Linked DNA regions of Homo sapiens: region 2 is linked to region 1. Evidence: fine-mapped expression QTL. A gene starts in region 1. The other region holds a variant in brackets. All regions are shown on one strand. Distances are between the middles of the regions.

What was found. PIP is the estimated chance that this variant, and not a neighbour inherited with it, causes the effect. A credible set is the group of variants that fine-mapping cannot tell apart.
Region 2: its variant is the best candidate, but not a certain one, in a credible set for the expression of LINC00624 in aorta (GTEx, PIP 0.84).

The regions. Positions count from the first base shown.
Region 1 is chr1:147,512,894-147,524,181 of GRCh38, forward strand. LINC00624 (long intergenic non-protein coding RNA 624) reads right to left here and starts at 4,982. Exons shown (of 4, transcript NR_038423.2): 1 at 4,550-4,982; 2 at 2,628-2,783; 3 at 1,445-1,555. RefSeq lists a silencer at 3,179-3,379.
Region 2 is chr1:146,857,246-146,868,533 of GRCh38, forward strand. It overlaps the pseudogene LOC124900456. Among named protein-coding and RNA genes, the nearest start is that of NBPF12, 75 kb to the right of the region's middle. The variant G/A (reference allele first, on the strand shown) is at 5,228.

The DNA of each region.
Region 1 (11,288 bases):
AGAGTTAACATTTATGGAGTGCTTACTATGCAGCAGACATTGTATTAAGCACTTTATACACATTACATCTTTTATATGGGAGATGTGGACAAGCCTAGAAAATCTAAACATGTAATGGGTCTGTTCATTTTGGTATGAAATGAAATAGATGAAAGGATATGGGTAAAGATGTAAACACGGACTCCAGCATTTAAGGATTTGACATAACTAGCTATGACTATTCATGGGCAACCCTTAAAGTAAAGGGGTTAAGTTGTAATTTTCTCAGATTTGGATTGACTTATGGTGGGCAATGACTCTCCTTCAGCTTTGGGTAGAGAATTGTTCACTACCACTGTCTACATCTCTGTACACCTTGATTGTTCTATGTGTTTCATTGAGTTTGTCTTTTTTTTTTTTTTTTTGAGACGGAGTTTCACTCTTGTCGCCCAGGCTGGAGTGCAGTGGCGTTATCTCGGCTAACTGCAAGCTCCACCTCCCAGGTTCAAGTGATTCTCCTGCCACAGCCTCCCCAGTAGCTGGGATTACAGGTGCCCGCCACCATGCCTGGCTAATTTTTTATATGTTTAGTAGAGACGGGGTTTCGCCATGTTGGGTAGGCTAATCTCAAACTCCTGACCTCAGGTGATCCGCCCGCCTCGGCCTCCCAAAGTGCTGGGATTACAGGCATCAGCCACCACACCCGGCCAAGTTTGTCATCATTCTTTTGAAGTTATGCTTTTCTGAATTATAGGGGGACAGTATAAACTATTGTTTAACCAAGAGTTTAAAGATTTGCAAATGTCTTCAGAAGTATAAATATTCACAAAGGGAAAGTGTCTCCTGACTTTAGAGAAATGTAGAAGTACCCCACTGGGTATGAGTAAGTTCTCCAGAGTCTCTCTTTAACCTAGCTCTAGGGTAGGATAGAGGTGGAGCCAGAAGGGTCTGTGTCTGCAGTTTTGACAGTGTTACCCTTCTTCAGCCTCCTGCACAGTGAGTGACCTCCAAGGATTATTCAGGGTTTGGGAACAGAGAATTGTAAAATATTTTAGATGGGCCAACCTTTTCTCAAAATCCTCTTCAAAGGAAAATTAGCCTCTTCCTCACCATTGCCTTCTGTGCTGAGGAAGAGGACCTGCTGCTCCTTGAAGGAGGGTGGCCATTTCGATACCACAAGAGCCTACTCTGCCCTTTGACTGGATGCCTGGCCAACTCCTGACATTAAGGCAGCAAGCAATCCCAGTACTGCACAAAGTTCTGCAGCAACAGAAGTGATGATTAAATAGGGCAATGGGTTCTCTTGGGAATACGAACTGGGAAATTCCAAAAATCAATCAGTATCATGAGAAACATCAGGAAGAACACAGAAGAGCAGCCCAGGCATGCTCGTGGTGAACAGCACAGAGATGAAGGGCCACCTCAGTGTTAGATCCTTCCAGTGTCCATATGACATTTCACTCACCAGGATGCCACTGGTGCCAGATGCTCCTGTGATGTGCCTCTCTCTCTCATCGCCACAGGTATGCTGCAGTAAGCCCCCACTGACTAAGGTAGCCTGAGGGAGTGTCAGCTCCTGGAAAACAAAAAATCACCATACTGTCAGAGCTGGTCACTTAGTCAGTGCTACTCAAAGTGTGGTCCAAGGACCAGTGGAATCCACCACTGTTCCAGTGTGCAGAAACAAAGCATAGAAACAAAATATGCATTTGGAAATCTTTAAATAGGAATTTGACCTTGCCCCAGCATCCAATTTTATGTCTGTTAAATCTAATAATAAAAAGTTGAGCTTGCATTTCATAAGTCTATGGGAGTTTTTTCATTTCATTTTTCTAATAATTTATTTTTATTGTGTTTTACAAAAGCATCAGTCAGTATGTGAAGGACTGAAAACTGTCAAATATTTAAAAACTGGTGCTTCACAACAGACAGTTTGAGGAGCACTGATCTAGTCCCGTTTACAAACTGTGAATCCTTGACCCATTCGTGGGTAGTAACCCATTAAGGAGTCACGAAATTAATTTGTGTGGATACCAGCATTAACAAAGAATAGAATAAAAAGTATCAGGGTACATTGCATGAATACAGGATTAAGTTCTTTTTTGTGAAATTTTTATTTTAAAAAGCATATGCAAATACATATGCACATACACACTTGTATATTTTTGCATGTATATAAAACAGAAAAAGGAACCTGGGATGCCCATGTTTTATTGTAAAAGATACTTCTGCTTTTCTAACAGTTGTAAGGAAAATGTCTGCACATATTTGGAAAACTATGTGTTGTCCATCACACACCCTTCTGCTATCTTTTATCTGATTTGGATTCTATGGGAGCTATTTCACAACTTTGTAAACTGTAGCTAGCTGATAGCATTGCAAAATAATTATTCTCTGTAAACATTCAAGTTTTGTCCCTTCTGGTAGAGGTTCAATTGATTCCCGCTCCCTCTGTGGAAGAAGTCAGTTTTGCCCTTTTTTTGTGCATTCAATATTCTTGATCTATACATGTTCTTTGTATTCTCTTTTGATCCAGTTATAATATCTGCCTAGTTCTCTCATAGATTGAGTTAAATAAAATCTCTAACACATGTTCATGTTCAATCTGTATGAGTCATGATTCTATGTTTCGTTTTTTTTTAAATTACCTTTTAACGTAGGTCACAGTAGAGCTTTCATGCATCAGGTGGCAGTGTTTGTTCAAACTTAGGTCAACTGTAATGAAATGGGATACCTCAACAGGAAGGCAAACCTGGATCCCTAGCAAGGCAGAGGGACTTCCTGGTTTAACTTTGTGCTGTTGCCTAGAGGAATCAAAAGGAAGGGGAGAATTTTATTGTGAAAGACCACATGCCAGCAATGATTTTAACTGCTGCTCTGTAAGATCCCTCCCACGCCTTGTTCTCATGATGTTTGAAATACACATCTCTTTTACTACAGTTCAGAAAAATCTGAAGATACAAATGAATATGGACTAGGCAAATTAGAAGTACGAGGTCTCAGACATAGCAAGAAAGAACACCAGCCTGAGAACAAAAAATTTAGGTTCTAGGCCCAACTTGATCCCTAATGAGCTGTATGATTTGATTTTAAGCATGTGACTTAGCTTCTCTGGGCCTCTTATTCTTTATCTGTACATTAATTTACTTAAGTTGGTAGTTTTCAATTCTTTTTCAGGCATAACAACTTTTTTTTTCAAAACAAAGCTTGTACACAGTTTTAATGTGCAAAACAAGACAACAACTCTGGTTTAGTAGGGTGTCTGCTTGGTTTCAACTCCTCCACTATGGTGGCCTCTAATTATAGGGGCCCCTCAGAACTGTGAGGATTCCAAGATAGCACGGTCTGAGAAGCATGGAATCCAAGAGCACTAACATTCTTCCTAATGCTGCGATGTTCCAGTCAATTACTTTGTCTCTGGTTTAAGAGCATTCAAAATCTTTTCCAAGTTGTTCCACCCTTTCCTTCCTTGCCCCATCCCCACCCTGTTGAGTATTTCCAATTTTAGCTCTGACCTTTAGAGTCCTTGTTCTATCTTCATTCAGTTCCTTCAACTGCTGGGATCCACCCCACAGGTTTGGTCCAAAACAACCTATGGGGTGTATTCCACTGTATTCTAATTATCTGTTTAATTATCTGCTTCCCCAACCAGACTGAGTTTCCTGAGAGTGGGTGTCTTGTCTTCTCACCTTTGTCTCCCAGGTCCAGTGCGGTGCCTCGCCCTCTTCTCTATTCTCAGTACACACTGTCTGAGTTCTTCTCTCTACCTTACCTATGTATGTTCTACCCAGATCTCTCTCCTCAACTTCAGCCTCTCTTGTACAACTACTTTCCAGACAATTCCACTTTGGGTATCTCATAGGCTCTTCAAAAGCAGCACATCCAGTTCTACAGCTTCCATTCAGAATATTTACCTCCTCCTAAAGTCCTATCTCAAGAAAATATGCTGCAACCTACCTGCTGCTGCCCAAGCCAGAAACCCTTGACACCTCACTTTCTTTCATTTCCACTTCCACATCCAACCCTTTAATTCCACCTCCTACCATTTTTTAATCCATCTACACTTTTTTTAGAGATGGAGTCTTGCTATGTTGCCCAAGCTAGACTTAAGTGATCCCCATCTCAGCCTCCTGAAAAGCTGGAGCTACAGGTGTGTGCCACAGCACCAGCGATCTGTCTTTCCATTTCCACTACTGTTGCCCAAGTTAAGATCACATGGATAATAACAGATCATTTTGATGGTGCTTCCAGGGTGCCAACTGTTGCAAAAATAATAAAACCCTTTTCATACATTAGATCCTTGAATGTGCGTATCTGCTCTGGTTATTACTGTAGCCCCATTTTACCATTAAGGAAATTGAAATTTAAAGAGAATAAATAACTTACCCAAGCTGGTAAGGGTTGGAGCTGAGAATTTAGTCCGTCTCTCCAATGCCAATACTCTAGCCCTTACCTATAATACAACAACTGAAATATTAACTGGTGTTGTATCCCTACTATCAGCTTTGCCTTCCAAGTCTTTTTTTTCCCGTTCTACAGCCCAGAGATTTTTTAAAAATAGAAATCTTACTGTGTGCGGAATTCATTCCTTCTGGTGGGTTCTTGGTCTCGCTGTCTTCAAGAATGAAGCCACGGAGACTCCCGGTGAGTGTTACAGTTCTTAAAGATGGTGTGTCCGGAGTTTGTTCCTTCAGCTGTTCAGATGGGTCCAGAGTTTCTTCCTTCTGGTGGGTTCGTGGTCTCACTCACTCCAGGAATGAAGCCGCAGACCCCGGCGGTGAATGTTACAGCTCTTAAAGATGGCGCATCACAGTTGTTTGTTCCTCCCGGTGGGTTCGTGGTCTCCCTGACTTAAAGAACGAAGGCACAGAACCTCGCGGTGAGTGTTACAGCTCACAGAGACAGTGCGGACCCAAAGAGTGAGCAGCAGCAAGACTTATTACGAGAGTGAAAGAACAAAGCTCCCACAGCAGGACACCAGAGGGCAGCGGGTTGCAGCAGCTGGCTGGGTGCTCCGCGTGGCCAGCTTTTATACCCTTATTTGCCCCGCCCACATCCTGCTGATTGGTCCATTTTACAGAGAGCTGATTGGTCCATTTTACAGAGTGATGATTGGTCCATTTTACAGAGAGCTGATTGGTCCATTTTACAGAGTGCTGATTGGTCCATTTTTACAGAGTGCTGATTGGTGTGTTTACAATCTTCTAGCTAGACAGAAAATTTCTCCAAGTCCCCCACTCGACACAGGAAGTCCAGCTGGCTTCACCTCTCCTTATCATGTGTCCTCCACTTAAAATTCTTCATTATTTTTCCTTTGCCCAGGGATACAATAGAAATGTGTTAATATCTCACTATGCCCTTCATAATCTGTATCTGGTGTCTTTTCTTGCTACTGTCACCCTTGGCTTCAGTCATACTGAACCGTTTATGATTTGGGGGGCATATATTGCAGTATCTTCCATTCGTCCTCCATATCTTCTTTTTCCTCTGCTTGAGAAATTCTTTATTTCCCCCACCTCTTTACCCAGCCAGCTCCTAGTTATACTTCAGTTCTCAGCTCAGAAATGTTCAACTCTAAAGAAACACTCTGTGACCATTCCTGTTCCCAGAGCACCATGAATCTTCTGAAGCTACCATTGTGACTCTACATTATAAATGCTTGTGTATTTGTCTGTATCCTCCCCCAGTACAAGTTCCCAGAGGGAGACTACTTCTGATTTATTCAGCATTGCCCATTGTCTTAACTTGGGTTCCTTAGAAGAAGACCCTGAGGTGAGAATTCTTCTTACTCAAGTGATTTATTGAGGATGAAATTCATATGAGTGAGGGAAACTGGATAGGGCTGGGGAGATCAGTCAAGCTGTGGGTCTAGCCTCAGCCTGATTCCAGGGGGCACTTTGGAGCTTGAATAACATCACAGAGTCAGCCCACTTGAGACAAGGGGACTGTGCTTTTACCCCCATCCCCAACAACTGGGCATTGGCTGCAAGCTGCTCCTAGAGTGTGTGTGTGTGGGATGAAGGCAGCATAATCTCCCAGGCATAGCTGGGGGGAGTGCTTCCCTGCTGCAGGGCTCCAGAGAAGGGTGCAGCTGTGACTCCTTAGTAACTGGGGGATGCGTGCTCCACCAGACAACAGGGGTCTACTACATACCCCAGCTGCTAGAACATGTCCTACCACATCATACTCAATACATGCCAAAGAAAGAAATGAGAGAATTTTTTCATTCATCTATTTCTCATTTATTCCCAGCTGAATGATTTTTCTAGTGGATTACATTCTCTAATATTCCCAATCTTGATTTTTTTTAAAGCCTCTCAATTTTCTTCCACCTTTCCTGAACACTAACCACTTTATAAGATTTCCAAACTTGGGTAACTCTAGTTTCTCACCTCATGTGCTTCGTTTAGTTCTAGTTTCTCACCTCATGTGCTTCATTAAGTTCTAGACAAACATGAGCACGGCCATTAATATTTCTACAACTTAATTAGTTGTTTAAGGTCTGACTGGTTACCGGTCAAAATGTACACATCTTCTCAAATTGAGTGGGACTTATGGGGAGAAGGTTTCTGTCAATTAGGAGAAAATTTGATTTTTTTTCTTTTTTTTTTGATGGAGTCTTGCTCTGTCGCCCAGACTGGAGTGCAGTGGCGCGATCTCGGCTCACTGCAAGCTCTGCCTCCCAGGTTCATGCCATTCTCCTGCCACAGCCTCCCGAGTAGCTGGGACTACAGGCGACCGCCACCACGCCCAGCTAACTTTTTTTGTATTTTTTGTAGAGATGGGGTTTCACCATGTTAGCCAGGATGGTCTCAATCTCCTGACCTTGTGATCTGCCTGCCTCAGCCTCCCAAAGTGCTGGGATTACAGGCGTGAGCCACCACGCCCGGCCGTATTTTTTTTTTTAGTTTTTTTTTTTTGAGACGGAGTTTCGCTCTTGTTGCCCAGGCTGGAGTGCAATGGGTCATCTCAGCTCACTGCAACCTCAGCCTCCCGGGTTCAAACAATTCTCCTGCCTCAGCCTCCCCAGTAGCTGGGATTACAGGCATGCACCACCATGCCCGGCTAACTTTGTATTTTTAGGAGAGACAGGGTTTCTTCTTGTTGGTCAGGCTGGTCTCGAACTCCCAACCTCAGGTGATCCTCTCACCTTGGCCTCCCAAAGTGCTGGGATTACAGGCATGAGCCACCACGCCCAGCCTGGAAAATTTGATTTTTAAACCGTTTGTCTAGAACAATTTGCTCCAAAATATCTACATATATCCTACCTGGGGGGTCTACCCAGAGAGATCTGTGAATTCTCTGTAATCCATGAATGCATATTCCAGGCTGTGTGCCCTTACCTATGGCAGTCAGCTGCCACCTGCTCAGATGGATGGACACCAGCAGCCTCCTCCCTGATTGGGAAGTTAGACCACATGGAGGGAAGACGACTTCTTCCCACAAGAAGGTTCCCTTCTGCTCGAGTGGACTGGAGCCCTGAGCTTATTCCTCAAGGAAATTTTCTCTCTGGAAGAAATCCAATCCTATCAGACTCAGACAAAAGGTAAAAGCCTTAAAGGTAGAGATCGGGTCCTGTTCTTTACATAAAAACTAACAATATCTCACACTCAACTGTTTAGAAGTGCTTTCACATATTGTATCTCATCTGATCCTCAATAAAATCCCACCCATGAGAAAACTGAGACACCTAGCAGTCAAGTGACTCACCTAAGATCACGTAGCCAACAAATGGTAGAGCCGTGATTCAAACCCAGGATCTCCGATGCCAAATATGAAGGTCTTTTCAGAGTACCCTGCTGTGTAACACAAGGCCTGGCTTACCATATGCCCTCATTAGCTTTTCGTTGAGTTGAATTACCTACGGCTTCTATTATTCATGTCCAGTGCACCCCTTCTTTAGAATAGATAACAAAAAGTAGATGATGGGCTAGTCTGTGTCAGCTAAAGCATTGTGCCAATGAGGTCCAGGTCATTGGTTCAAATCCCAAAAGACCAGTTACCTTTGTCTCAAAATGGCAGTAAGCTTAGTTCCGCTGATACAGGCCACTGCCCTAATCACTCATTTTGCCTATGAGTCAACATCAGAGAATGGCAAAAGGATTTGGATAGAGCAGGGCAAGTTCATTACTAATTCTAGAGGGACATTGGGAAGAAAATCTTATTGCTTTTATTTTTGCCCAGGAGAAGGGATAGTGCATCATTGGACTTAGCCACATAAGGCTCTGGGTTGATACATGTGGAGTTGAATTCAGTGACTTGAGTGGATCTGACCCAGGAAGGCATCATGAGGAGGGGGTGTGCCAGGCTGAAGTGAGAAAAAGGGCTGGGAAGAAATGACCAGCTGGAAAGGCCAGTCCAGCACCACCAATGTCTTCAAACAGAAGGCTGCAGAGATAACTTGAAGACCTTGAGGAGCAGGAAAGTGTCATGGTTCTGGAGGTTAAATTTAAAATCCAGAGCCCCAAATAAAACCTTCACTCAGGTTCTCTTCTTCCATTCCTATAACTTAGCTTATGGTGCTGACAAGGAAGCAAATGCTTAAAAAGTGCAGAGCTCTTATTATCTATAATTGTTATACCATTCAATGCAATGAACACTGACAGGCCTGTTTTGCATCCACTGCTGTACAAGCTCCTGGGGTTGGGGTTCATGAAATCTCTGACCATAAGTTATTATCCAAGGAGTGAAATGATCGTAGTATATTATACAGATCAAGCAAAAATAAGTTCTATGTAGTGACTGCTCTGAGAGTTTAAAGGGAAAAGTTGGCTATGGTCAGATTCCTTTAGAAGAACTTCTCAGGAGGGGACTGAGTTAGTCTTTGACGAATTGGCAGGATCTGAATCTGAAGGTGGAGGGAGGTGGAAAGAGGATTCATCCCCTGAATCCAGTGCCCCACATACCTCCTTTGGGCCCACCTTATTGTTTCAGCCATTGCTGTAGCAACCAGCTGTGAGCAAGTGAAACCTGGCCGCGCCGTGTCTTTGGATGCAGAGAGCAGTGTTCACCTTCTGTTCCCGGTTTCTTTGCCACATCTGCCTGCAAGAACCTGCTTGGCCATTCTGATACACATGCAAACCTGAGAGTATGGGGAAGTTATCACCCAAAGGACAATACTGGATCAATGGGAGCAGACGCTGGTAGATTAATACTTCCCTCTTCCACCCTGCAGGCTGCCAAGTCTGAGATGCATTCTACAGGGGCTTCATAGCCTTCTAAGTAGGATTGAGCTCTGGTTGCCCACAGTGACGATCCGATAAAGTAACCATGGATTGGCTTCTCCTTCTTCCTTCTTTCAGCCTTCACAGACCCCAAATGTCCCAATCCTACTTCTTAGCGTAACTCCCCCAATTCAACCACCTGTACAAGCCCTTTTTTGGGAGGGAACATGGAATGAAGTTAAAAATGGGCTTGTTGCTTTTTCCCTATATCCCTGAAAAGTAGCTGTTCCAGAGATAGGAGAAAGCCGAGCAATATGGCACAGGGAGAATGTGCAGATTCTCTTTACTACACCTCCGAAGCCCACAACTGGCTCCCGCATTTGATCAATCCTATGGGGACTTCTCTTAGAGCCACCAGGGGTCTTTAGAGAGCTCCCTGAAGCCTGAGTGATGGGAAGCCTCACACCCATGTGGTAGGGAACATTTCACTGAGAGTGACATAGCCAAGCCCTCCTCTCCTTCCCCAGTTCCTTCAGACATCTGTGAAAGTTTGAAAAGGGTTCTTGCATTCCCAGGCCCAGGACTGCAGGGAGGGAGGAAGCTGACCCTCAGCCTCCCTGAAACATCCTTTGTGGGACTCCCATCCCTACCACCTCTTTAAGTTCTCAGACCTCAGCACTGGGCTGGGATCTTCCCAGAACCACCAGCCCACCCAGCCCCAGAGTGTATTCACCAGAAGCCCTGCTCAGAAGTTGGCCTGATCTTAGTAATAGTCCTGACTCTTTCCGAACATAGATCATGCTGAGTTTTATGCCTCACAAGTGAAGTGTGATAACAAGAACTTGGAGAGGATCTAAAGCAACCAAAGGGCAGGGCATGGTGGCCCATGCCTGTAATCCCAGCACTCTGAGAGGCTGAAGTGGGAGGGTCACTTGAAGCAGGAGGATTGCTTGAGGCCAGAAATTCATGGTTACAGTGAACTACAAGTTGCATTACAGCCTGAGTGACAGAGCAAGATCCTGTCTCAAAAAAAAAAAAAAAAAAAAGTAAAATAAGATAAGCAACCAAAGGGATATGAGTTTGAAAAACAGCTCTAGGCTGCACCCTTAGAGAAGCAGGGCAACTTACCTTCTCGAAAAGGCAGGAAGTACAAGGGTGCCCACTCAGTCCAGAGGAGGACATGATATGAGAGACTGGGGCAGGACAGAACTTTCCTCTTACGAGGATTGTAGAAGGCCTTGAATTTTGTGGGGAGGTAAGAGGAGAAAGATAATTGGAGAGCGTGAAGAAAGGATTGTTAAATAGTTTTTTTCTGGCAACATTTTTAAAAGTTCAGGTAGTTTAAAGATGGCTGAGGCAATGCAATGCTTGGAGAGAGCGGTGGGGGTGGGCTTTTTCTTCGCAGCAATCTCTCTGGCCCTGAGTGCCCCCGTCAGATTCTACCCTTGTACACTTGAAGGCACATGAAAGTGATAAGGAGAAGAAGGGAGAGGGGACAGCAGAGAAGGAAAGGTGAGAGAATGACATTGGTCATTGCTGTGGCGCGCTTCAGGTCACCACAGCCTGCCCACCTGCAGGAATCCTTACAAAGTCTTCCCGGACCTGTAATATGGGACTCTCTTCAGGGAAGCAGTACGGCCTAGGATTAAGACCATTAGCCTGAGAGTCAGACCCAAGGGTCCCAGAGCTGTTTATAGGCTAAACAACCCTTGCTCCACAAATACTTAACTTCCAGGGCCAGTGTTTCCTTATCTAGAATAGGAGCTCCGTGAAGTCTGCCTTATTCTCTACAAGAGCCCTAGAGCCTCGTATTGCACCTGGCAATACATATTTGCTGAATGAATAAATAAATCTATAAAATTAGAATAACCTTATTACCACTCCAAAGGAAGTAAAATCATGATAAGGAACATGGATGCTGGAGCCAGACTCCCTGGATTTGAATCTGGGCTCAGTGGCTTCCATCGCTGCCACTTTGGCAGGTTAGTGAATCTTTCTATGCCTCTCTGTGCCTCAGTTTCCTTGTCTGTGAAATGGGGTTGATAACAGAACACCTACCTCAAAAGGTTAAAACAAGTTAACCTTTTTGTGGGGTTAAAACAAGTTAACCTTTTGTGGGGCTTAAAACAAGTTAATGTATGTGAA
Region 2 (11,288 bases), 660 kb before region 1:
ATTTTCTAATTTCAAACTTCTGAGGGAGAAATCTGGCTGGCCCGGCTAATCATATTGTCTTTGGCTGTGTGCCCAGCTATTGACAAGTATGGGGATTGTCTTTCCTTGGAATGGGTACCAACTCTTTGGTCCAGTCAGCTATGGCACAGCCATGCCATCCAAAGACATGGCACAAAACACGACAGCTTAGCCAGCAGAAGCTGTGGATGGGGGAGACTCCCTTAGGAGGACATGTGGGCAGGTCAGATAGACATTGACGTTTCTGGTACAGCCACACCTACATGCCCTTACATGGACTATAGAAAGGTAGCAATAGCCTGGTAACATCAACTCTCATGACCCTCGTGCTGACAAGTCTCCAGGGACATGTGGAGTAAGCATACAGAAGTGTCTTTTACCACTCTGTTCCAAATTGTCTTCTTAGATCGTGTTCCAGTTCACACCTTTCCATCTGGGCATCACTGAGTCATCATGGACCTTCCTAATTCCCGAGCACAACATCACAGTCCCTTTCCTGCTGGTAGGCAAAACTACCGAACCTCTCATCTCTCTGAACAAGTCACACCTCAACTTCAGCTCTCTCCTCATTGGTAAGGCTGTCCTGATGGTATGTATTTAGAGTTGGCATGATCTGGGCAAGGTCATCAAGAGCTCTGGGAGCAGCCTTGCATAAGAAACCTCTCCTGGTCCCTTCCAGAAGCATATCAGAGGGTCTTAATCAGTTTTTAAAAAGCCACAAAATATTTACTGCTCAATCTAATTTCCACCAAGTATCTTTTAAACCTACAATTAATAGCTTAAGGAAATTTAGGAGCCTTGTTAAAGATCCTACTTGGCAGATTCCTTTAAGGCATGGGCTGACTGTTTATTTCTAGAGCCTCAAGTTGGCCCATCCTTCCTGCATTTGCCCCCAGATTATGGGGGGTATCTGTATGCTTCTTGGTCTGTGCCACAGTGGTCAGATTTCTCTCTCATCCTTTCGTGCATTTATTTGGTTCAACAAATATCACTGAGTCTGTAGAATGCCCTCGGTACTTTTCTATGGGCTGGGATTACGCTAATGGATAAAGCCCAAAGTCCGTACCTTCCTGATGCTTACATTCTAGAAATAAGAAACAGGCTACCAAAAGAAACATAAGGAAACTATACACCATGTCAGATGGTAATAAGTGCTTTAGAGAAGAGGACAGCAGGGTAGGGAGAATAAGGAAGGCCAGGAGGCAGTGGGAAGGTGAAACGAAGTAATTGTCATGTCCCTTATAACCCCATGTATCTTTCCCATGGTTGTGACATCTCTGCTGTGTGTATAAAATACAACTAAAGCCAGAGTATGTTTTAATAATATGTTAGATTTGTATTTGTAAAATAATATTCTTATAGTAAATCCACCAATGTGGTGTTGCATAAGAAAAAGTTTAATCTCTCCACATTCATCCTGTCTCATCTTTCTCTTTCCACTCCAAAGGAAAGCAGTGTTAACTGCTGGATGTGTATTTTTACCGATACATATAATTAGGTGGGAGGGGGAATTATGGCATTTATTAAGATTTTGAACAAATAAGCAATGTAGCATAAGAATAACAACAGTGAGACAGAGTTTAATCCAGGAATTCAACAGTGGTACGTTTGAATATAATCATTACATCAATAGATTAAAGAAGAACAACCATGTGATCATGTTAATATACACTGAAAAGGCATTGCCAAAATTTAGCAGACATTCCCAACAAAAACTCTAATAGCAAAATGGACATTGATGGAAAAAAAGGTTAACCAAAATCAAGAGGCAGATATGATCCTGCAATAAATGACTAAAACTGCTTCAATTAAAATGAGGAATTAGGTAAGGGTGTTCATTATCACCCTTATTATTGAACACTTGCTTAGAGACTTTAGCAAATATGACAAAACAAGAAAATTAAATAATTTGCATAAACATTGGGGAAAAAGGGATAAAGTCATCTTGTTTTGCTTTTACTGATGATTTTGTACACATAAAACCACAAGAGACTCTAGAGAAAAAGCAAAACAAACTACTAGACTCAACAGAATAATGTGGTAAGGTGGGCAGATGCAAGACAAATGTGCAAAAATAGTGTCTTCTTTTTTAGCACTAGCACCTAGAAACAGAAAACCAAAGAAAACATCCACTTGGTACTGGCAAAACCTATAAAATAGCTAAGGATAAATGTAATAAGACATGCACAAAAAAGACCTACATGAAGAAAACTATCAAATCTGATTAAAATCCCCCAAACAAGATCTGATCATTTGTTAGTTCTCCTAAAATTAAATGCAAATTTAATCAAGTTCCAATTAGAATCCCAACTAGGGTTGCCAGATAAAATACAGGATGCATAAATTTTAATTTCAAATAGCAATTAATAATTCTGAGTAAGTCCAAATATTGCTCGGGACATATTTATACCAAAAAATTATTTGCTAAATCTGTCAACCAAATCCCAAAAGAATTGGAAGGGGAGAGAACTGGATAAAATGATTCTAAAGTTTATGTGGAAAAATGAATGGTCTAATAGCCAAGAGGAAAGCGTAAGATGATAGTGAGAGAAAATGTATTAGTCAGAGCCCTGGGCAGGAAACTCATGCCAATACCAAAGGTCTATTTTCAAAGAATTCGATGCAAGAATTATTTACAGATACATGGGCAGTTAAGGGGGTCAACCAAGGAGAGTGAAGCCCCCATTAACAAATTCAGGAAGGCATTACAATTCTTGGGTCTAAAGGAGCAAGGGAAGAAAACGGTGTCACCAGAATCCCAGGAGAGCTGTGGCCAGGGCAGAGGAGCCACTCAGCAGAAGCAGGCAACTGATGAAGAAAGACATGGAATTCCCGAAAGAAGGAAGGTGACTTGTAGAGGAAAAGGAAAGAAGAGAGGTAGACAAAGGCGGAAGAGGTTGGGGAATGTCTTCTAAATGTCTTGCCTGTGAAGCGGTGTCTGCTGAGAGACTCCAGCAGGCAGTCAGGAGGCCCCCACTAAGGGCTGGTGTTTCCTCCTCAGGCAGAGAAGCCAGGGAGACTGTGCAGATCATCAACAAGGAGGAGCAGGGGTTCGATTTTTCCTTCCAGGACAACTCCCGCTATTCTGAAGGTTTCAGCAACAGCCTGCTTGTATGTCCCATGGAAGGCTGGATCCCACCACTGTCCAGGTAAACAAAAATGAAGGTCTCATTTTGTTTGCATCCTCCTGACATGCCCAGGACCCCAAGCCTGCCAGTGCTTACAGTGCCCCATTTATATAATTGCTTTCAACTCTAAGATTAGATCATAACAATTCCATCTCCATCCTACTTACTCCCTGATATCTGTTTTCCTGATGAATATGGAGCATTGAGAATTCTAAGCCCTTTATCTCAATATTTTCTCTTTGTATTCTTTTCCTTGCTATATTCACTGTATATGTGAATCCACAGTGCAATGTTCAGGCTTGCCTGGCAAGTCTCTTTTTCAATTAAACATTTAATTTTCAGGCCAGGCATGGTGGCTCATGCCTATAATCCCAGCACTTTGGGAGGCTGAGGCAGGCGAATCACTTGAGGTCAGGAGTTTGAGACCAGCCTGGCCAACATGGCAAAACCCAATCTCTATTAAAAGTACAATAATTAAGGCTGCGGCAGGCAGATCATTTGAGGTCAGGAGTTCCAGACCAGCCTGGCCAACATGGTGAAACCCCGTCTCTACTAAAAATACCAAAATTAGCCAGGCGTGTTGGCGGGCGCCTGTAATCCCAGCTACTCGAGAGACTGAGGCAGCAGAATCGCTTGAACCTGGGAGACATAGGTTGCAATGAGCTGAGATCGCACCACTGCACTCTGGCCAGGGTGACAAGAGCGAAACTCCCTCTCAAAAAAAAAATTAATAAATAAATACAATAATTAGCCGGGTGTGGTGGCACACACCTGTAATCCCAGCTACTTGGGAGGCTGAGGCATGAGAATCACTTGAACCCAGGAGGCAGAGGTTGCAGTGAGCTGAGATTGCACCACTGCACTCCAGCTTGGACAATGGAGTGAGACTCTCTCAAAAACTAATAATAAAATTTAAAAATTTGAAGTAATTGTAAATTTACATGTAGTTGTAAGAAATAATAGAAAGACTGCCGGGCATGGTGGCTTACACCTGTAATCCCAGCACTTTGGGAGGTCAAGGCGGGTGGATCACCTGAGGTCAGGAGTTCGAGACTAGCCTGGCCAACATGGTGAAACTCCGTCTCTACTAAAACTACAAACGTTAGCCAGGCGTAGTGGCACATTCCTGTAATCCCAGCTACTTGGGAGGCTGAGGCAGGAGAATCGCTTGAACCCGGGAGGCAGAGGTTGCAGTGAGCCAAGATTACCTCACTGAACTCCAGAGCAAGACTTTGTCTCAAAAAAAAAAAAAAAAGAAAGAAAGAAAGAAGAAGAAATAAGACAAAGATAACTCTGTACTGTTTACCAAATTTCTCCCAAGGGTGACATCTTGCAAAGCTTCAGTAAAATGTCACAACCTGGTATTGACATTGACGAGTCAAGACACAGAACAGATCCCTTGCCGCAGGATTCCTCATGTGACCCTTTTGTTGCCACACCCTTTCCCTTCCCCCAAGCAACACCTCCTCACCCTCTGGAATCCAATACTTTCCTCTGTGTCTATCATTTTGTCATTTCAGGAATGTTGTATTCACAGACACATACATTCCTTTTGTGATTGGCTTTTTTCACTCATAATTCTCCAACATACATCCAGGTAGTTTTGAGAGTTTCTTCCTTTTTATGACTGGCTACCATTCCATAGTAGGGATGCACCACAGTTAGTTGAACTATTCACCCACTGGAGGACATCTGGATTGTTCCTGGTTTGGGCTGTTATGAATAAAGCTACTATAAACTTTCATGTACAGATTTTTTGTGTCTTCATGTCACTGGGGAAAATGAGCAAGAGTGCAATTAATGGACATACGATAATGGCATGTTTCCAGAAAAAAAAAGAAAAAAAACTGTGAAAATGCTTTCCAGACTGGCTGAACCATTTTACATTCCACTAGTTATCTCTGAATGTTCCAGAATCTCCACAACATCACCAAAATTTAGTGGTGTCACAATTTTTTTATTACTATTTTTAGACAGAGTCTCGCTCTGTTGCCCAGGCTGGAGTGCAGTGGTGTGATCTTGGCTCACTGCAACCCCCGCCTCCCAGGTTCAAGCAATTCTCTTGCCTCAGCCTCCCGAGT[G/A]GCTAGGGCTACAGGCACGCACCACTATGCCCGGCTAATTTTTTTTTTTTTTTTTTTTTAGTAGAGATGGGGTTTCACCATGTTGGCCAGGCTGGTCTCGAGCTCCTGACCTCAAGTGATCCACCCGCCTTGGCTTCCCAAAGTGCTGGGATTACAGGAATGAGCCACTGCAACCGGCAACAATTTTTTATTTTAGCTTTTCTGATAGATGTGTAAGGATATCTCATTGTAGTTTTAATTAGCATTTTCCTAATGACTAATAATGTCGGACATCTTTACATGTGCTTATTTTCTGTATGTGTGTTGTCAGGCCTGAGGGCCTCTTCCGTCATTGTCAAGGGAAATGCTAACCTTCTCTCCTTTCATACAACACATATGTGCTTGTTTTCCTTCTATGGATCCTCCTCAGTGAAATGTCTCTTCATGTCTCTTTCCAGTTTCCTGCTCAGCCTGTTTGTTTTTTATTGTTGATTTTTGAGAGTTCTTTACATGTTTAGGTAGTGCTCCTTTGGTGGATACATGATCTGCAAATATCTTCTCCCAGTCTGTGGCTTGTCTTTTGCTCTTCTTAACAAGGTCATTCACAGAGCAAAACCTTTTATTCTTGATGAAGTCCAAATTATCTATTTGTCCTTTTATGGACTGTCCTTTTAGTGTCTGTTCTATATCTCTGAATAGCCCTAGATTCAGAAAATGTCCTTCCATTATTTTTTCCGTAAGTTGTGTAGCTTTACATTTCAGTCTGTAACCCCTTTTTTATTAACTTATAAGGTATGAGATTTACGTCAAAGTTTTGTGGGGTTTTTTCAACTTTTATTTTAGTTTCAAGGGATATGCATGCAGGTTTGCTACTGGATTTACTGTATAGGTTTGGGGTACACATGGTCCCATCACCCAGGTACTGAGCTTAGTACCCAATCGTTAGTTTTTCAACTCTTGCCTCCCTTCCTCCCCTCCCCCTAGTAATCCCCAGCTTCTTTTGTTGCCATCTTTACGTCCATGTGTACCTGATGTTTAGCTGCAACTTATAAATAAGAACATGAGGTATTTCACTTTCTGTTCCTGCATTAATTTGCTTAGGATAATGGCCTCCAGCTGCATCCATGTTGCAGCAAAGAATTACCTCATTCTTTTTGTGGCTGTGTAGTATTCTACGGTGTATATGTACCACACTTTCTTTATCCAGTCTACAGTTGATAGGCACCTAGATTGATTCCATGTCTTTGCTATTGTGAATAGTGCTGCAATGAACATGAGAGTGCATGTTGTCTTTTTGGTAGAATGACTTTGGGTTTTTTGGCTTTTTTGTTTTGTTTTGTTTTGTTTTTTATGAGATTGCTTTGTTTTTTGTAAAGAGATTGCTGTGTTGAATGATAGTTCTGTTTTAAGTTCTTAGAGAAATCTCCAAACTGCTTTCCACAGTGGCAGAACGAGTTTACATTCCCACCAATAGTGTATAAGTGTTCCCTTTTCTCTGCAGCCTCGCCAGGATCTGTTGTTTTTTATTTCTTAATCATAGCCATTCTGACTGGTGTGAGATGTTATCTCATTGTGGTTTTGACTTGCATTTCTCTGATGATTAGTAATGTGAAGCATTTCTTTATATGTTTGTTGGCCACTTTTCTGTTTCCTTTTGAGAAGTGTCTATTCATGTCTTTTGCCCATTTTTTAATGGCGTTACTTGTTTTTTGCTTCTTCAATTGTTTAAGTTCTTTAGAGATTCTGGATATTAGACCTGTGTCAGATGCATAGTTTCTGAATAATTCCTCCCATTCTGTAGGTTGCATTTTTTCTCTGTTTGTAGTTTCTTTTGCTATGCAGCAGCTTTTTTCCTTTCTTACTCTTTTTTTTTTTTTTTTTTTTTTTGCAGGATTGATTGGGTCCCACTTGTCGATTTTTGTTTTTATTGCAAGTGCTTTTGAAGACTCATTCATAAATTCTTTCCCAAGGCTGATGTCTACAATGGTGTTTTCTACGTTTTCTTCTAGTTTTCGTATAGTTTGAGGTCTTACATTTAAATCTTTGATCCATCTTGAGTTAATATTTGTATATGGTGAAAAGTAAGGGTCTTATTTTATTCTTCTGGCTTATGGCTAGCCAGCTATCCCAGCATCATTTATTGAATAGGGAATCCTTTCCTCATTGCTTATTTTTGTTGACTTTTTCAAAGATCAGATGATTGTAGGTGTGTGACTTTATTTCTGGGATCTCTATCTTTTTCCATTAGTCTGTGTGTCTGTTTTTATGCCAGTACCACGCTGTTTTGGTTACTATAGCCACAAATCTTAAAATGTCATCATAATTTGGAGTTTCCTTTTCCTCGTAATGAATCTGCTAATTCAGTAGGCTCATATTTTTTAAGGTTTTGACAAGTTGGCCTAGTCAGGTAATCTGCTGTTTTGTTCCCCAACCAGGTTCCCAATTGATATTTTCTTCACTCCAAAGCAGCAAGGAGATGTGAACTTTAATTTGATCTGCAATGTGGAAAAGAAAGTCCACCCTGTGACATTAAATGTCAAGGCCGAGGGCTACACTATGAATGTGGAGATCAAGTGCAAGGACAGGACAGGCTCCATCACTCTGTTGACTCCCAACCAGACTAACATCATCAACTTCTATGAGGTAAAGGTGTAAGAAGACCTTGCTATCTATCTCAGCTTCCATTCTGACTGGGGAAAGTAGTAAAAATGAATATGAGCTGAGTCTTTCTGCTTCAAATGCCAGAGAGACCAGGAAAACAGAAACACTCCAAGAGCAGCTCTATCCCCAGAATGTATGTAGATATGATGTGAATGCTTTTCTTATTTTATTTTCAGGGGGGGTGGAGAGATGGTGGGGAGAAGAAAGAGTGCTTGTGTTAAACATACAGGAAGGATATTTGACTACCAACAAAGGACTAAGAACTAAATTGCCACTTTGCTCCATGAGATATTGAAAGAACCCCAATACTTAGTAGCTCCTGCTGGAATATCTGACTCCATTAAGCTAAAGATAGTCAAATCACCAACATCATCTGCCATCCTTATTTCCCAAAGGATATTTTTCATCAACATGTTACAAATGCTGACCCCAGACAAGGGAACTATGGTTTGCATTCACTGCTCTGTTCTCTGTCTCCTAGGTGGAGTTAAATGAATGTGTCCAGTGTGAATTCAACTTTATCAACACTGGAAAGTTCACCTTCAGCTTCCAGGCACAGCTGTGTGGCTCCAAAACCTTGCTGCAGTACTTGGAATTTTCACCCATCGACAGCACTGTGGATGTAGGACAGAGTGTACATGCCACCCTGTCTTTTCAACCATTAAAGAAGTGTGTCTTGACAGACCTGGAACTCATAATCAAGGTGAGTCCATTTAACATTGTCCAAACTCCAAAAGTACTCTCAGCATGCTGCCTTGGCAAGTTAATTCTCCTGTGTGTTCTTTGTCTTCTCCATGTGTCCAGAAGCTCCTAGAGGGTAGCTGTGTTGGACACAGCCTCACAATGTCTAGTACAAAGGCTTCAACAATGGTTAGGTGCCTGGGGAGTAAGTGTGGATTGAAAAGCAATTATATTGCAATACATTCACCCACTAAAATAAATAAAAGTGATAGATGGGGCAGGGAAAGAATATGTACAATGTTTTCTAAGATGAATTATTGAATGAAAAAAAAAAAAAGAATGGTGATGTCAGCAGGAATGGCAGAGAAGGACATCCAAAATGCTGCTTTTCAATAGCAATGAGACCACTGGAAAAAATTTTCGAAATCAACTTTTTCAGAACTCTGAAAATTAATAATAGGCTTGCAACAATTCTCGGAGTATTTATTCAAGAAAAATGGCTGAATACCCATAAAGGCAGTGAGCTTTGTGGTATTTTGACTTGCCCTATTCTCTCCCTCCTCCCTCATCCCAGCTCTGCAGTAGCCTTGAAAACCAACAATTTGGCAATCAAAGTGAAAGTCAGCAATCAATCAGACCCTGGAGGAGGTAGAACAGATTGCAACTCCCCAAAAGCCCCCATTCTAAAAGAGTTGTCACTATTTGACCTGTCTAGAAGTTCAGTGAAACCCCCCCTCATAGGGATAGCTTTTATTTGACCTGACTCCAGGCTTGCTCAAAAACAATCAGTTGTAATTGTTTAACACTGCAGCTGACTGAGGGAGCATTGACCTTAGGAGCAAACAAGAAGTTCATTTAAAAATTTAAAAGGAGAGACTGGGAAGAAGATATTCATGGGGGGCTCTGAAAAGCTTCAGCATATTCCCTGGAATCTAGACAGCCATGCATGTGTAAGATGTGTATACCTCCAGGCTGTTACTGCTCAGGAAAGACCTGAGAAGGCCCTAAGCTCTTACCTCTGACTAACCTTTGGGTCCCAGGAAAGATAAAGCAGAATTGGCAACTGCCTGCCTGAGTGTCAAAGGCATGTCCTGCCACACACACACAGCCCCTCAGCAAAAGCTGGGAGACTTATTGGTTCCAGGCATTTAAGGGAATCTCTGTTCAATCATAAGCTGACCATTAAACTAACTGAGCAGAAACTTTATTGGCCATGCATAAATAAGAATATAGACTTTACTGAAAAAGTTACTAAACAAACTAAGAGTAACAACAGTAACCAACCCTGGGGGAGGGAGGATCTGATTTTCACAGTTGCCACATTTATTATTTTAAATCTCCAGTTTCTGACTAAAAAAATATGAGCCATGAAAAGATACAAGAACATATAACTCATATACGGGGAAAAAAGCAATGAATAGAAATTGTCTCTGAGGGAGCCCAGATGTTGGACTTAATAGACAAATACTTGAAACCATCTATTTAAAATATGTTCAAAGAACTATAGGACACCATGTCTAGATAACTAAAGCAAAGTATGAGAACAATGTCTCACCAAATAGAGAATATCAATAAAGATATAGAAATTATAAAAATATACATTTTGGAGTTGAAAAACATAATAGCTGAAATGAAAAATTTCACAACAGGGGCTCAATAGCAGATTTGTTATGGTAAAAGAAAATCAGCTGTGGCAGATGGGATAAAATTGTTGAAAAGAAAAAGAAAAAATCAGCAAACTTGAAGATGGAGCAATTGAGATTATCCAATATGAAGAACAAAAAGGAAAAAGAATGAAGAAAAATGAACAGAAGTTCAGATTCCCATAAGAGATTATCAAGCATAGCAAAATACATGTAATGGGAATCTCAGAAGGAGAGAAGAGAGAAAATAAGAGAAAGAATATTTCAAGAAAGAACACCCTAAAACTTCCCAAATTTAATGAAAACAATTAAATATCCAGAAAGCTGAATTCTGAGTAGGATAAACTCAAAAAAATCCACACCTAGACACATCATTACCAAACTGTTGAAATACAAAGACAGATCATCTGGAAGGCAGAAGGATTAATGGCTGGTTTCTCATTAGAAACTTCGGAGGCCTGAAGACAGTGTGATGACATATTCAACGTGCTGAAAAAAAAAATTATCAACAAGGAATTTTATATCTAGTAAAACTATTTCTAAATAGTTCCCATTATTCTGCCGATTTTGGGGAACAATTTAAAAATGAAGGATAGACCAGGACACTCTCAGATAAATAAAACCTGAAAGAATTCATCACTAACAGACTGGCCTACAAGAAGTAATAAAGGGAATCCTTCAGACTGAAATGAAAGGACACTAAAGGATAACTCAAATCCACATGAAGAAATATAGATCACCAGTAAAGGTAACTGCATAGGTTATATAAAATCAGTATAAATGTATTTTTATTTACAACTTTTTCTATCTGATTTAAAAGACAACTGCATATAGCAATAACTATAAATCTGTATTAGTGGGCCTTATATAAAGATGCAATTTGTGTGGTAATAGCACAAAGAAAGAGGAAGTAACAGAGCTATATAAGAGCAAAAGTTTTGCCTATTATTGAAATTAAGTTGTTATTAAATGTAAAGACCATCGAGACTAGGAGGAAACTGCATCAACTAACGAGCAAAATCACCAGCTAACGTCATAATGACAGGATCAAATTCACACATAACAATATTAACTTTAAATGTAAATGGACTAAATGC